Regions from separate parts of the Homo sapiens genome. Here regions 2, 3 and 4 are each linked to region 1. A link means that fine-mapping ties the variant in region 1 to the plasma level of a protein whose gene starts in the linked region. Region 1 holds a variant in brackets. A gene starts in each other region. All regions are shown on their forward strands. Region 1 holds the start of LOC101928844 (a long non-coding RNA gene). Region 2 holds the start of IL19 (interleukin 19). Region 3 holds the start of C6orf58 (chromosome 6 open reading frame 58). Region 4 holds the start of MUC2 (mucin 2, oligomeric mucus/gel-forming).

The links. PIP is the posterior inclusion probability: the model's chance that the variant is causal. Protein levels are from antibody-based Olink assays in UK Biobank. Linkage for the fine-mapping came from a reference panel and not from the study's own genotypes, which makes the PIPs less certain.
Region 2: it holds the start of IL19, and the variant in region 1 is fine-mapped to the plasma level of the IL19 protein (UK Biobank, PIP 0.99).
Region 3: C6orf58 starts here. The variant in region 1 is fine-mapped to the plasma level of the C6orf58 protein (UK Biobank, PIP above 0.99).
Region 4: MUC2 starts here. The variant in region 1 is fine-mapped to the plasma level of the MUC2 protein (UK Biobank, PIP above 0.99).

The regions. Positions count from the first base shown.
Region 1 is chr19:5,846,818-5,849,563 of GRCh38, forward strand. The region is part of intron 1 of FUT3 (fucosyltransferase 3 (Lewis blood group)); the gene reads right to left. It overlaps LOC101928844 (a long non-coding RNA gene), which reads left to right and starts at 650. Exons shown (of 4, transcript NR_110740.1): 1 at 650-951. The variant T/C (reference allele first, on the strand shown) is at 1,172.
Region 2 is chr1:206,768,728-206,771,227 of GRCh38, forward strand. It overlaps IL19 (interleukin 19), which reads left to right and starts at 2,046. Exons shown (of 7, transcript NM_153758.5): 1 at 2,046-2,351. IL10 (interleukin 10) reads right to left here. Exons shown (of 5, transcript NM_000572.3): 3 at 2,180-2,332; 4 at 1,102-1,167; 5 at 1. RefSeq lists enhancers at 537-646, 2,207-2,396.
Region 3 is chr6:127,575,625-127,578,370 of GRCh38, forward strand. It overlaps C6orf58 (chromosome 6 open reading frame 58), which reads left to right and starts at 1,550. Exons shown (of 6, transcript NM_001010905.3): 1 at 1,550-1,862. The coding sequence starts at 1,562.
Region 4 is chr11:1,073,454-1,076,199 of GRCh38, forward strand. MUC2 (mucin 2, oligomeric mucus/gel-forming) reads left to right here and starts at 1,421. Exons shown (of 58, transcript NM_002457.5): 1 at 1,421-1,524; 2 at 2,198-2,468. The coding sequence starts at 1,449.

The sequences.
Region 1 (2,746 bases):
GAAGTCTTTGTCAGTGACCTTCAGGAGGGTAGATTGGGGGAAACAGGTGATTGGTGGGGGCGATTTTCAGGCCTCTGAGCCCAAGCTAAGCCATCATATCCCCTACGACCGGCTCATATACGTTCAAATGGCCTGAAGCAACTGAAGATCTACAAAAGAAGTGAAAATAGCCTTAGCTGATGACATTCCACCATTGTGATCTGTTTCTGCCCCACCCTAACTGATCAATATACTTTGTAATCTCCCCCACCCTTAAGAAGGTTCTTTGTAGGCCGGGCACGGTGGCCCAAGCCTGTAATCCTAGCTCTTTGGGAGGCCGAGGCGGGCAGATCACGAGGTCAGAAGATCAAGACCATCCTGGCTAACACGGTGAAACCCTGTCTCTACTAAAAATACAAAAAAAAATTAGCTGGGCGTAGTGGCGGGCGCCTGTGGTCCCAGCTACTCCGGAGGCTGAGGCAGGAGAATGGCTTGAACTCGGGAGGCGGAGCTTGCAGTGAGCCGAGAAAGAGCCACTGCACTCCAGCCTGGGCGACAGAGCCAGACTCCGTCTCAAAAAAAAAAAAAAAAAGGTTCTTTGTAATTCTCCCCACCCTTGAGAATGTACTTTGTGAGATCCACCCCTGCCCACAGAACATTGCTCCTAACTCCACCGCCTATCCCAAAACCTATAAGAACCAATGATAATCCCACTACCCTTTGATGACTCTCTTTTTGGACTCAGCCCGCCTGCACCCAGGTGAAATAAACAGCCTCGTTGCTCACACAAAGCCTGTTTGGTGGTCTCTTCACACGGACGCATGAGACATTTGGTGCCGAAGACCCGGGTCAGCGGGACTCCTTCGGGACAGCAGTCCCCTGTCCTCACCTTCACTCCCTGAAGAGATCCACCTACAACCTCAGGTCCGCAGACCAACCAGCCCAAGGAACATCTCACTGATTTTAAATTGGGTAAGTGGCCTCTTTTACTCCTTCTCCAACCTCTCTCACTATCCCTCAACCTCTTTCTCCTTTCAATCTTGGCACCATCCTTCAATCTCTCCCTTCTCTTAATTTAAATTCCTTTCATTTTCTGGTATAGACAAAGGAGACACATTTTATCCGTGGACCCAAAACTCTGGCGCCGGTCACGGACTTGGGAAGGCAGCCTTCCCTTGGTGTTTAATCATTG[T/C]GGGGACGACTGCCTGATTATTCACCCACATTCCATTTGTGTCTGATCTCCGCGGGGACACCTGCCTTGGTCATTCACCCACATCCCTTGGTGGCAAGTCAATTGCAGGGACGCCTGCTTTGGCTGCTCACCTTACCCCTTCTCTCCGTGTCTCTACCCCTTCTCTACTTTCCTGAGGGGCAAGCACCCCCCACCCCGTTTCCATTTTCCTGGGGGGCAAGCACCTCCCATCCCTTCTCCACTTTCCTGGGGGATAAGCATCCCCCACCCCTTCTCTCCGTGTCTCTACCCTTCTCTTTAAACTTGCCTACTTCACTATGGGCAACCTTCCACCCTCCATTCCTCCTTCCTCTCCCTTAGCCTGTGTTCTCAAGAACTTAAAACCTCTTCAACTCTCGCCTGACCTAAAACCTAAATGTCTTATTTTCTTCTGCAATGCCGCTTGACCCCAATACAAACCAGACAGTGGTTCCAAATAGCCAAAAAATGGCACTTTCAATTTTTCCATCCTACAAGATCTAAATAATTCTTGTCATAAAATGGGCAAATGGTCTGAGGTGCCTGACGTTCAGGCATTCTTTTATACATCGGTCCCTCCCTAGTCTCTGTTCCCAATGCAGTTCATCCCAAATCTTCCTTCTTTCCCTCCTGCCTGTCCCCTCAGTTCCAACCCCAAGCGTTGCTGAGTCTTGAATCTTCCTTTTCTACAAACCCATCTGACTTCTCCCCTCCTTCCCAGGCTGCTCCTCACCAGGCCGAGCTAGGTCCCAATTCTTCCTCAGCCTCTGCTCCTCCACCCTATAATCCTTTTATTACCTCCCCTCCTCACACCCAGTCCAGCTTACAGTTTCTTTCCGTGACTAGCCCTCCTCCATCTGCCCAACAGTTTCCTCTTAAAGAGGTGGCTGGAGCTAAAGGCACAGTCAAGGTTAATGCTCCTTTTTCTTTATCCGACCTCTCCCAGATCAGTTAGCGTTTAGGCTCTTTTTCATCAAATATAAAACCCAGCCCAGTTCATGGCCCATTTGGCAGCAATCCTGAGATGTTTTACAGCCCTAGACCCTGAAAGGTCACAATGCCGTCTTATTCTCAAAATGCATTTTATTTTATTACCCAATCTGCTCCTGACATTAAATAAAGCTCCAAAAATTAAATTCCGGCCCTCATACCCCACAACAGGACTTAATTAACCTCGCCTTCAAGGTGTACAATAATAAGAGTAGAGGCAGCCACGTAGCAATGTATTTCTGAGTTGCAATTCCTTGCCTCCACCGTGAGACAAACCCCAGCCACATCTCCAGAACACAAGAACTCCAAACGCCTGAACCGCAGCTGCCAGGGGTTCCTCCAGAACCTCCTCCCCCAGGAGCTTGCTACAAGTTTTGGAAATCTGGCCACCGGGCCAAGGAATGCCCGCAGCCCGGGATTCCTCCTAAGCCATGTCCCATCTGTGAAGGACCCCCAATGAAAATCAGACTGTTCAACTCACCTGGCAGCCACTCTTTTGTTTAGTTTCTCAGTTCATACAAAACCGCATCCAGGCCATCACCAATAATTCTATACGACAAACACTCC
Region 2 (2,500 bases), not on the chromosome of region 1:
GCTGTGCAGAGAGATAAGAAACATACAGTTAAAATCCTTTCTGGGGACTAAATAGGCTCCCCTCCCTCATGCTCATGGATGGGCATGACCTTGAGTGCAGAGGTTGCTTGTTCTCCCTCACGCTGGGAAGTAAACCAGAGGATAGGCCTAGCTGCCTTGGGAAAGGCTGTGCATTGACCTTCATCTCCTCCAGGCCTCCCCCTAGCAAGGGGAGCATTCATTTTGCAAAGCACTGTCTTCAAAATGATGCCTTTTCAACAATTTTAAAGGTCACGTATTCACATGATGATTATGCAGAGTTTGATGAAAAGACATTAGAGGAAGCGCTTCGAAAGCAAGACGGTGAGAGGAGAGGAGGGAGCCTTTTAAATGTCTGTGTTCTCCCACCAACACACTGAGCAGGCCCTGCCCTGCCGCCCTGACCTACTATGAGAAATTCACACCCCCTGATGTTGGCACTCTGTGCAGTGTCTGTCCCCAGCCCACGAGGAGGACATAGGCCGCACGGTTTCTGGGAAATCAGACTGAAAAAGTTCACGCACAGTTGGAAGTGTGAAACCCCATTTCGTTTGGGAACTGACATTCTCAGGCACCTCCGCAGGTGCGAAGGGCAGATGGAAAGCGGGCTTGAACCAACTCCAGGTTAAGTGAGAATCCAGCTTCCTGCTCATTCTGAGTTCTGGGGAGTCTGGGCTGAACCCCCAGGTGTATTTGTATGTGCACATTTATGTGCCAGCTTCCTGCACGTGTGGGTTCAGCCTAGATTCCCAACAAGCTACTTTCTGTACTTTCTGTTTCCTTTGTCACTCTCCCCAGCATGCAGCTCACTGTGTTCACAGGCTGGCCGGCCAGCCTAACCCGCAAGCCTGCAAAGGCAGCGAGCAGTCATTTAGAAACCCCCAAAGACACTTAACAGAAAACAAATACAATCAAGGCAGCAGCTCCTCACTGGCTGAGCAGGTCATACCATCTGTCAGGTTCCCACACTCTCTCCAATGAAGAATGGGGCCTATTGAGTCCCCACCACCTTCCATGCTTTGGGGTTGGGGAGTGGGCATGGGTTGTGCTCTGCAGACCCTCTCTGCCACCATCCAAGCTCACCTTATTAAAGGCATTCTTCACCTGCTCCACGGCCTTGCTCTTGTTTTCACAGGGAAGAAATCGATGCTGTGGAAGAAAAGAGAAAGTGTTGGTGATCCTGGCTTCCAGCTCCATGTCCATCACACTTAGGGGACAAGCTGGTGGCATCATGAGGAGGCCAGATTTATCCAAATGCCTTGCCTCACAGCTCCCAGAGAGAACTGAGCCCTGCTTCCATGGCCCTGGGAGTTAAATGTATTTCTCCAGGACTCACTCCAAGATGTTTGCAAGGCTTGGATGACAACCCAGGTCTTGGGATTCCTTCCTCCCCCAGAACTCTACAGTATCTCCTGCAGTGCTGAGCGAGGCATTCTTCAGCCTGTCCTTTTCTGCCTCTCTCTCCTGTTCCTCCCCGTCAGTCACAGCCACCGAGGAACACTTCTAAGCATCTGAGGAGGGAAGCTACTGGGACCAAACCCTTCACATAGCCTTGTCCTACAAATAGACACCAACTGATTTTCCAATATTGGTGACAGAACAGGGGAAACCATTAGTAGTGAGGGCATCATTTCAGTTGGAGAAATAAATTACCTGGAGGAATTACTCATAGACACTAGCCTGGGGATGAATAGCCCCCTTGTCCCTTCTAAAATGCCAGGGGAAATCCTGTCAGTCAATTGGGCCCTTCTTAGAGCTTTGCTTTCAAAACATTGAGATTAAAAGAGGTGAATGATGTTTCCTCTGCTTGGGAACCTTAGCTCCCCGCCCAGGGTCTAGTTACAAAGAGGCAGTGGAGGCCTGACTGAAGCTCTGGGCTCCTTTTATGAAGAGAGAGGGGAGTAGTTAATAACCCACAAATGACTCACAAATAACAGGAAAGCTGTTTGCAAATTTCACATGTAAATGCCTAGCAGCCACCCCCAACGCCTGCTCAAAGAGAAATGAGCAAGAGATCTGACTCCAGGAGTCTTTCCTCATTTACAGCTAGCTCTGCCAGTCTGTGTCTTTGCTGTGTCTGTGGATGTGAGTGTCCCTGCTGGTCTGTAGGAGATGGTATTTTGGGGGCAGCTGCAAGGGAAAAAACTGATCTGCTACTTACACAGCGCCGTAGCCTCAGCCTGAGGGTCTTCAGGTTCTCCCCCAGGGAGTTCACATGCGCCTTGATGTCTGGGTCTTGGTTCTCAGCTTGGGGCATCACCTCCTCCAGGTAAAACTGGATCATCTCAGACAAGGCTTGGCAACCCAGGTAACCCTAAGGGCAGGAGCCAAAGGTGAGTGAGAGATTGGCGGAGGTGGCTGGGAGGAGGGGCTGCTGCAACTAGCTTAAGAGGACAGCTTGGTTCTAGCGATCCTCCTTCACCAGAAGCCTCCCCGAAGGGACTGAGCCCTTTGTAAACCCTCTGGCTGCTGGATGTGCTGA
Region 3 (2,746 bases), not on the chromosome of region 1:
TCTTATGTTTTCTGAACACTGTCATATCATCTATAAGGGAAAGTACTAGCACATCTTCATTCTCAATTTTATACCTCTAATTTATTTATCTTTACTAACTTTATTGTTTGGTATCCTCAAAGAAAAGTTAAATGATTATAATGCTGGTGGTCATTTTTATTTTATTTCTGACCTTAAAGGAGTGCTCTTAAGATTTCTCCATTGAGAACAATCTGGCATTTGGTTTTAGAGTAACACATCTTACAGTACATATTCACGTATATATTCTTATAAACATTTAATATACTTTTAAAATTTCCAGAATGATTGCATTCTTGATCTATAGTAGCAATTCCTACCATTCCCTTTTATATTAATATATCTGGAAAATTTATTAATTATCAAATGGCTATTGGGTAAATAATATGACAGGAAAAAAGAGTGGAATCATGCTGTAGGATGTTTAATGTGGACCATGCCAGGAACAAGCAGTACCAGTGACCTACTATGAAGCATATGCATCTAATTGTGTAAATAATTGAGATTTTCAGATGCATTACCTATTAATAAGGCAAGAATTTTTACTATGTGTGAATAAAACTTCAATAACAGTGGTTGAAACAAGAGAGTGGGGTGTTTCTTGCTCAGGTAAAACTCAGATATAGGAATTCAAGGACATCTCATGGCTCCACAGCCCTCTGGGACTCAAGCCACCTCCAGCTTTGCATTCTGTCATCCCTAAGATAGTGCCTTGCGTTTAGGGGTCAGAATTGAATTTCAATCATCACATCAATAATCCAAGCCACAACATGGAGGAAGGGAAGAGGAATTGACATGTGCCCTTCATTTTAGGACATGTTCCAGAAATTGTGGATACTATTTCTATTTATGTCTCTGTGGTCCACACTTAGTCACATGGTTGCTTGTGTAAAGCAAATTGGAAATTTAGCCTTAATTCTGGGAGACCATATTCCCAGCTAAAATTCTACGATTCTTTTACTAATAAAGAATGAAAAATAGATATTAAGAATTAACTAGCAGGTTTTGTTCCAGCAGGCTGACTTTCATTATTGAATTGAGCTAATTAGATATTCTTTAAGCTTCTTTCTTGAAGCAGAACATTGTATTACAACTGGATCACACATATTTTTAGTACACATTTGAAGATTATTATAAATCCTAGTATTTCCATCTCCAGCTATTTAATATTTTCCATGAAATATGTTAAAGTATTTTTATTAGAGGGAAGCATTCTAAAGCCATTTGTGATGTATTTTGTAATCACAATGCAGCCTGGGAAACTTCTGGAAGGTTTTTGTTGATAAATAGTTTTATCTAATACATTATAAACAAGCCTAACCTTGTATTTAGGTTCTGACACAGTATTCTGACGCTGAAGAGTCTGGGAAATTTAATTGTCCTAAATGTTAGCTAATACATCAATTTCTTCTACATTTTCACCCTATCCAGGAAAACAAAAAAGCAAAGTGTTGATATGCTGTGAGGTTAGCAAATATCATGACTTCCTCTTCCATTCTCCAATAAAAGCCCTGCTACGATCGCAATCCCCAGCTCTGGCACAATGGCTTTTCTTCCTTCCTGGGTTTGTGTACTAGTTGGTTCCTTTTCTGCTTCCTTAGCAGGGACTTCCAATCTCTCAGAGACAGAGCCCCCTCTGTGGAAGGAGAGTCCTGGTCAGCTCAGTGACTACAGGGTGGAGAACAGCATGTACATTATTAATCCCTGGGTATACCTTGAGAGAATGGGGATGTATAAAATCATATTGAATCAGACAGCCAGGTATTTTGCAAAATTTGCACCAGATAATGAACAGAATATTTTATGGGGGTTGCCTCTGCAGTATGGCTGGCAATATAGGACAGGTAAGAATGACTCTTGTTTTCATTGTAATGATCTACCGATAGACCTATGAAGTATTTGGGAAATTGGACTCTGTATATACCCTACTATGTTTTTAAAAATTGATTCTTTATCTTGTTCTCTTTTCCCTTATAATCATTGTTTTTCTACCTATCCTTCTCCTTATCCACAAATCCTTCTTTTGTGGGTTGTGTGTTATTATTAGAAGCTTCAATGAGGCATAAGACATAGTTATCAACTGTGAAAAGACATCACATCTCATCTATTGAGCATTTCACAAATATTTGTTGAAGTTCTACTAAGTGCCACACTCCTTTCTAAGCAATGAGATGAACAAAACAGTCAAGGGGATATACAAAGTGATGTCCAATTAGTTTGAATTTCTTGAAGTTCTAATTATGATATGAGGTTATAAAGAAGCATCACATTGTTCATGAAGATCTTTCTCTGTAAAATGTTTGCTTCCTCTTGGAAATAAGGTACCTTACAGTGTATAGACAGAAGTTACATTTTGGGATAAAATATACATGAATTGAAAGATACTTTTGTTCTGGTTGATAGAAGCTCATGAGAAAGAGTGGTGCCTGTTGCCCACTCCCTGCTGATGACACAGCCAATAAAGAAATTATTGTGTGTGAGAGAGAGGTTAAGAAAAGAGCAATTTCATTTGGAAGAAAAACAATGATTATTTTCTAATATTTACATAATGCATATTACAGGTGAAACACCTTTGGTGCTTTTTCTCACCTCACATCACAACCTTATAATGTAGTTAATATTATTATCCCCATGTCATAGATGAGAAAACTAAGGCATTAGAGGTTATTTAGATAAAGTCAAGCTAGTAAGTGGTAGAGCAGGGGTTTGTTTTGACTCTCGACCATCT
Region 4 (2,746 bases), not on the chromosome of region 1:
GGAGGCCCACACCAGGAAGTGAACAATGATCTCCTCTGGCCTCGCCCAGCTGGCTCTGGTTTCCTAATCCCCGGTCCTCCTGGCAGGGGCCACACACTGAGCTTCCTCCACGTGCCCAGGTCCTGGCAGGGAGCGCAGACCCTGGGGCCTGGTGCTGGCGGGCACCGCAGGAGGGCGGGAGGGGCTTCGTCCCAGGCCCTGGGTCTGGGCAGCAGGTCAGCCAGGGAAACAGGCTTGGTGCTTTGGGCCCCGAGTCTCTATAACTGTTGGGGTGAGTCCCTCCCCACTGCCATCATGCTGCCGGCATGTCCCTGGCATGTTCAGGCCAAAGCCAGGAACTCAACTCAGGGCCCCTCTCTATTTTCAGGAGGAGAAAATTGTAGAGAGAGGGGAGGGCCCCCAGACCTCAGTTTACCCACTGGCGACACAGGGGTGCCTGCCTGTGCCCTCCCGGGCCGGGGCAAGCAGTGGTGGGCCCAGTGGTCTCGTAGTCTGGGGTCGGTGTGAGTTCCGGTTCTCCAGGCTTTTTTCCAGACAACTGCTGGGATTGGTGGGCGAGACCAAGGCTCATCAAAGGCACAGCCTTGGGGGCAGGATCCCCACCATGAGTCAGAGGTAGTTCTGGGGAGCCTGGGCAGGCTGTCACCTCCTCAGCTGTCAGGCCCGAGGTCCTCATGTGGTCCCCAGGAGAAGGGGCAGACGGCCACTTCCGGCCACCAGCCAGCTCCCTGTGTGCCTGATTCCGTAACATGTCCCCTGGCTGGGCATGTACTCCCCAAGTTCTAATTACATGTAACTGCAGAGAAGGGCTCAGCCTGGGAAAAGGATGGGCATAGGGGGTGGTTGGGGGCTGGGGCCTCTGACACAGCTCCATGAGCCCGGCCAAGAGTCCCACACAAGTCAGTGGCCCCCCCGGACCCTGAAGGATCCCACATCCTCCCTGCCCTCGGGGAGGCCCCTTTCTGGGGTCAGGCCTGGAAGCTGCCCCAGAGCTTGGGCCCCAGGAATGGGTTGGTCCTCCCAGCGTAACGTGAGCCTGATCAGGCCTGGGGACCTGCTCAGCGGGTGTCTGGGGGCCCATGGCGGGCTAAGGAGCCTGACCAGACTTGCTTCTGGCAGGACACCCCTCCCCCGGCCACCCTGGGCTCGCCCCTCTAGTAGCTGCATGTGTTCCCCGGGTGTGTGTTGGCATTCAGGCTACAGGGCTGCCTCATCCTGAAGAAGGCTGCGTTTACCCAGGGAGCCATAAAGAGATGACCTCCGATAACCTGAATCAATATTTCCCCATTGGGGCTCGGGCCCCCGCAGCTGTCTTCTTGATCATCTGGCAGATGCCACACCCACCCTTGGCCCTCCCCTGCCTTCCTGCCCTCCTACCCTCCTGCCAGGACATATAAGGACCAGACCCCTGCCCCCGGGCGCAACCCACACCGCCCCTGCCAGCCACCATGGGGCTGCCACTAGCCCGCCTGGCGGCTGTGTGCCTGGCCCTGTCTTTGGCAGGGGGCTCGGAGCTCCAGACAGGTGAGAGAGCAGACACAGGGGTCTGGGGCCTGGCAGAGTGTCCTGGGGGCAGGGCGAGGCGGGCGGGCAAGTCGCGTCTGGGAGGAGGAGCTGGTCCCAGAGTGCAGCCTGCGCGGCTCTGCTGAGGCTCCTGGCCCGGGTTGGTCCCTGGAAGCCCCCGGCCCTGCTGACTTTCAAGGAGCTGGAAGGTCGGGGCTCCCCTGCTATTCCTTTGGGGTTGACTGCCCGACGACAGTGTGGGTCTTGGGGCCAGCACCAGGTGGAAACAGCAGGTCAGGCCCCAGTGAACTGGGTCATTGTCCATAGGGGAGGAAGGGGTGGCCAGGATCCCACCAGAAGGCCCCATTCTCAGGTGGCAGAGACCCTTGAAGAGTTGGGGCAGCACAGCCCTTGCTGGGGAGCGGGGTGCCCAGAATGCCCTCTCCTACATCCCGCTTGGCACCCGGCCGCACTCCTCACCAGGCCGGGGGTAGAAGCCCTGAGACCCCTGTGGTGGGGTGACCAAGGCCCAGCAGAGGGCCCGAGGATAGGAAGGAACCTTTCCCGGCCAGGGGCCCTGTGCTGGGCTCGAAGCTGCTTCCAGGTGCTTCTTCAGGGGCCTTCTCTCGAGGGTAGCTTGGGCAGCCTTCCCCCTCCGGGGCCACTCACCCCTCATTCCCCGCTGCTCCCTCAGAGGGCAGAACCCGAAACCACGGCCACAACGTCTGCAGCACCTGGGGCAACTTCCACTACAAGACCTTCGACGGGGACGTCTTCCGCTTCCCCGGCCCCTGCGACTACAACTTCGCCTCCGACTGCCGAGGCTCCTACAAGGAATTTGCTGTGCACCTGAAGCGGGGTCCGGGCCAGGCTGAGGCCCCCGCCGGGGTGGAGTCCATCCTGCTGACCATCAAGGATGACACCATCTACCTCACCCGCCACCTGGCTGTGCTTAACGGGGCCGTGTGAGTGTGGTCGGTGGCACCCCTCCCACATCCTAGCAACGGGGGCTGATGTTTCCCAAAGGGATATTCCTTGTAGCCCTAGAAGACCCCTTCCGCCCCAGCACACAGCTCAGGAGAACAGCCTTGAGGTTTGGGTTCAGGTCACTAATTCATTCAACAAACACTGATGAGCCCCCACCATTCCCCCCATAGGCAAGGGGTTTCAGTTATCCCTTTGCCTGTGTGTCCCTGACAGCCCCTCCCCTCGGAGCCCACCAGGCTCCGGACAGACTTGGCAC